Regions from separate parts of the Homo sapiens genome. Here region 1 is linked to region 2. The links come from fine-mapping of genetic effects on gene expression. Tissue or cell type: thyroid. Region 2 holds a variant in brackets; the other region holds the start of a gene. All regions are shown on one strand. Distances are between the middles of the regions.

The links. PIP is the estimated chance that this variant, and not a neighbour inherited with it, causes the effect.
Region 1: ODAM starts here. The variant in region 2 is fine-mapped to the expression of ODAM in thyroid (GTEx, PIP 0.97).

The regions. Positions count from the first base shown.
Region 1 is chr4:70,194,562-70,197,256 of GRCh38, forward strand. ODAM (odontogenic, ameloblast associated) reads left to right here and starts at 1,164. Exons shown (of 12, transcript NM_017855.4): 1 at 1,164-1,232; 2 at 1,968-2,033; 3 at 2,131-2,172. The coding sequence starts at 1,983.
Region 2 is chr4:70,223,749-70,226,443 of GRCh38, forward strand. It overlaps FDCSP (follicular dendritic cell secreted protein), which reads left to right and starts at 2,376. Exons shown (of 5, transcript NM_152997.4): 1 at 2,376-2,434. The variant C/T (reference allele first, on the strand shown) is at 1,658.

The sequences.
Region 1 (2,695 bases), 29 kb before region 2:
ATTTAATACTTTCTAATAGATATAAAGTCCTACTGGTGGGTTTTCTTCTTTAGTAAAGAAAAATGTCTTTTTATTCTAACTAATGATTTATGTACTTGGATTTTTTGACCAGATAAATAACAAATAGTATAATTATTTTAGTATTAATGAGCCATGCAAGCTCTGTCTCATTCTACCAAAAAAGACAAATGTATTAAAAGGCAATAATTTTGTTTTCCTGCATAAGACTATCATGAGTTGCTCAAGATTAAGTTAGCTAAAAAGAACTCTTCCATAATAAAAATTAATTGATAATACATTGTCAAAACACTTGTGATCCTGAACTATTAGAGGGGAGTCGATATTAACAACAAAAAAACTACAAATAAACACAAAACTCCCATTATGAAGGAAATTTAAATAATAACAATGTGCAGAGAGTAATAGTTGTATTTTGAATATTAAAATATATAACAAAAACATTTTTCAATAAAAACATGTATTCACGGCTATTTTTTAAAATGTAGGATATCATGCTTTATACTTATTAAATTATTTATTTCAAGCAACATGATCATATACAAATACATTTCATAGACACATGGAAATTTAGCAATTTTTTAAGGACTGCATTCAGTAAGTAGAGGGAGAATAACTGATGTTTTCAAGGTCAAATCTAAAGGAAACTAGCCCACATTTACTTAGCCCAGCATTGAGGAAGCAAAGAATTCTGCTAAGTAGGCTTTGAAGTTTTGCTTTTCAGACCTATGATTCCTAACAATTCTGTATTTCGCCCTTGAAGTAAAAATAATCACCCATTTATCCTTGACTTTATTAAAGATATTAACTTTTATTCAGTTACAGTATCCAGTTTTATTCAATTAGAGTATCCAGTTTAAGAATTATAAAAGAGTAGAATAGAATTATTCTAGGAGAATTATTCTAGGAGAATTACTCATAACCAAACCAGAAGCCAGAAATGATCACAGGAAAACATTTCTCAGGGGATAATTTAATAACATTACTAAAAGTGTGGGAATCCATATACCACCTAAATGATTAGGAAAGAGGTTATTAGCTAAGCCATTGTCTGAAACCCACTGAATCACTGGTCCTTTTTGAACAATGATTGGTCCTTTTTTTCTAAAGATGAGTTTTAAAATTTAAGAGAAGTGCCAAGCAGTAGAGCTGAGAGAGGAAAAGAACACAGATCTCGCATGGTTCAGATTTTTCTTTTTAGGTCCAGGAGTAAGGTAAGATATCAAATCTTTGCTTTTATAGTTTGAAGAACCAAAATCAGTGAAATCTGCAGGATAGACTATCAAGTTCACCCTAAATGCTTGATTAGGTCAATGATTTGAAGCAGGGAAAAAAGTTTCACATCTAGAAGACAAGAGAAATATACTTAAACAGGTTACACCATAAATCAATATCACAGTTCAGTTTTATAATCTATTGCCATAAATTACAAAAACATTGACTCAGTTGCTTAGTTCTAGTATATTATTCTGTTATTAGACTACTAAGTGGAAATTATCTGGTATTGGACTGGTATTGTCAAATCTCTATTGAAGTACTTTTCAACATAGACATTAAAATTGCTGCAGTAATAAGTCCCTAGTTGGTTAGCCTTAGTCATGACCTCCCATGGTCTGATGGGCCTGCTCCTCTCCTTGTAGGGCAGCACTAGGAGGAGATCATCTTGTTCTTTAATGCATTCAACCACATCATATGTCTCCAAATGAGTATTTTGTTCAAGCTAAAAGGACAAGCAAACAATCTTGGTTTTTATAAACAGCTTGTCTGAGAGAAAATAAAGAGTTATATCAGAAATTTACAAACATAACTTTTTAAATTTTAAATTGCAAAATGTAAGTAAATACTATAGAATTCACCCAGCTATTCCTTTGATTGAACAATACTAATTATTTTGTCATGAATTTTAAGTAATGTCTTTATAAAGCTAAAGATCACAACTTATTTTCTAGATATATCATACGAAAATGAAAATTATAATTCTTCTTGGATTCCTGGGAGCCACATTGTCAGCCCCAGTAAGTGATTTTATGGCACTACTAGTCCCACTGTGTTAAACCTTCAACAATCCCTTCTTTTTACTATTTCTGATTTTTTTTTCATTTTTACTTTTAGCTTATCCCACAGCGTCTCATGTCTGCCAGCAATAGCAATGAGGTTAGTTTAAATAATTAAAACAATCTCCTCCTTTTTTTAATGGAAATCAAGTGGGAAGAGATAGAAGTCGTCATTTAATTTATACTGTGTTCCTCACCACTAGCTTTTATGTATATCCAAGCACATTTCTAATGTCCATGTTTGATTATATAACAGGTTACCTCTAAAATATTATTCTGCTTCCCTTGATTGATTGTTAATTCTTCAAAGGCGGATACAATATTGTTTATATCTTTTTGTTCTAATAACACCTCACACAGGTGTATATAGGTGTTTAAAAACATAAAATGACTAAACCACTGGAATGTGCTAACGTTGTGCAATCTCATACCCAACAGAGGAGAGGTTGTTAAATCCCAACCTTGTTTTAAATCTAACTTCTAATCACTGTAATTTAATGTAAGCCTAGTGAGAAAATGTCCCACTTCTAACAAGAAATTGAGCAACCAGCTATGACTTGTGCTATATTTGCAGTAAACATTGTTCCTACTCATTTTAGTGTGTAGTAATCTTGATTTCATAT
Region 2 (2,695 bases):
TTTAAATCCTTCTCTTTCCATTGAGAAATGAATTTTGTGGGTCACTAGAATTTAAGAGATATAAATTAGAAGAGAATGAAAGACACGTAAAAAACTAGTTTAGAACATAAATTTAAAAAAATGAAAATTTCAGTATGTTCCTCATGTAAACAATGTAAAAAATATTTTATTAAATCCTTGTCTCAGTTGTGTGTGTGTGTGTGTAGACTGAGTTATGATATATAATGCATTTTTTACTGTGGCTTTTATTTTAAAATTTTTGAAAGCCACATTAAGGATCATTATAGCATTACTGTGGAAGATAGCTTGAAGACAAAAATACTGCGGACAGGGACTCTATATAAGAGGCTACTGTAACACTCTAGTAAAGAATGAGAAACTAAACTAAGGAAAAGACAAAAAAGATGGAAGATATTTATTCCAGAGCATTATAAGAAGGAAAAAGTTAATGACCATTTGATGTGGAAGAGAAAGCACAAGAAAAAAATAGGATGAGTCTTAGATTGATTGCTTGGATAACTGAGTGATTGATGGTCATCAGCTGAAAGATTAAATAAAAGTGAGGAGCATATTAAGAGGGAAAAAGAGTAAGCTAGGTTTTGAATAGGTTGGGTTTGATGCTTATTCAGTTGGATACAAGATTCTGGGTAATTAGAGAAGAGTTTTAGCTGAAGGCATAGCTTAAGGAGTCAGAAGTAGATTACTTTATAAGAGAAAGTGAAGACTAAGAAGATAAATTGTCAAGTATAATAAATCAGAGAAAAAGAATCAGAAAATAAGACTTATGGTTTCTATTAAAAGAAAAAGAACATGAAAAATTGGCTTACAGAAGCCAAGGAAGAGAAAAATAGATTTCCAGATGGGCATAGTCACAGTTAAATGTCAAAAGAATTGAAGTAACACAAGGACAGAAAATCATTTATGGTTTTCACAATTCAGTGGCAATTGCCAACCTCCATTAGAGCTATTTCAGATAAAAGAAATTGAAGTAGAATAAATTGAACGACAGGTTTTAGGTAAGGAAATGGATAATACACACACACACACACACACACACACACACACACACACACACCTGTCATCCCCATCCCTGGGGAAATGTACTATGAGCCCCAAATTGGTCAAAATATGTACAATAACATAACAGGTTTAATATATTAAGTTTCTGATTCAGGCAGTTTTCTTTAAATCATTGAGATAAGATTAAACGTTGAGTTATAGGTGAAGGAAGTAGTTTAATGTTTCTCTGGCTTTGTGCTGATTTTTCTAACCTTCTGTTAACAGTGACAGTATAAGGCACCAGTTATAAATGTGGGTTTTAGAACCAAATTGCTGGTGCTCAATTCAATATCTGCCAGAGACTAGCTGTAATACCCAGACTGATTACTAATATTCTCTGCTTCTCAGTCTCAAAATGGGATGGTGTTGATCATAGTACTTTCCTCTTAAGGTGGTTGTTTGGGAGATTTAATTATATTATATATATAAAGCATTTAAATTTGTGCTTCAGCACTTAAAGTCCTCAAAAAAACTTACCTGCTATTATTTTTCTGAGTTGCCTTGAGAACTGAATTCTAGAAAAAATAAAAAGAAGAAAAGGGACTTTGATGCACTACTACTACAATCTGGACTATATAACCTCTTTTGAAGTAGAAAT[C/T]GAACTCAATAACAGAATATTCTTAAAAGCTCTCGAATTAGTTAAAGCTCAAATTTTATGACTCTTGAAAAAGGCATATACAATATGCACGCATATTTAAGGTAATTCTTGAATGTTTTGTGGGCCCTAGTTTCTGTTCCCGCACTTAATAATGATACCTTTTCTGCTGTAAGTGAATTTTTAGTTGAGAAATAGAGTATAGTGTTCCATAAGGTAAACAAGATGCTGTGGTGCTCCAAAAATACAATTCACTCATCTACGAAGCTCTAATCCTGATAATAAAATGAAGAAGTTGAAAGAAGAATCATGCAAAAGATTTTAATCCCATCTTAAACAATTTTTAGATTTTTTATTTTCTTAAGATTCCAGCACTATCAAATATGCTTTGCAATAGGTTATAATCAATACCAGTAAAATGCTTAGAGGTATTTTAAATTGTGGGAAGTAAAGGAAAAAATTGTGAGAGTAGACAATGGAGCAACAACATGTAAAGTGATAAACTTCAAATATACAAGACACAAAATTTGGAGAAAAAAACCACAAAAGATTTTGGTATTTGGTAGTTTCTAGGAAACTAAACATTGGTTATTCCCCAATTTCAACATATTGAGATAGTTGATGAGTAATAACTGATCCTAGGGGAGAGGCCTTTAAGCCACAGATTTCTCCATTCCATTATACCTTTGAGTATATAAAACAGCTACAATATTCCAGGGCCAGTCACTTGCCATTTCTCATAACAGCGTCAGAGAGAAAGAACTGACTGAAACGTTTGAGGTAAGAAAGGTCTTAAATATCATTGTAAACTAAGATTGTATATCTATTTTGTAAATATAGATATATAGCATCTCTCCATATATTTTTCTTTAAATCATAAAAATTTTAATTGTTGAGACTAAATTGTAATGGTTGCTTGAATTTGTAGACTTAGTAATTAGAAAACCATTTTTAGTATTCTGTTTGCAAAACTTTTTTTAAAATCACCACCCTGCTGTAGTAAATATTTATTTTAGAGTGACCATAAATGAATCTTTCTAG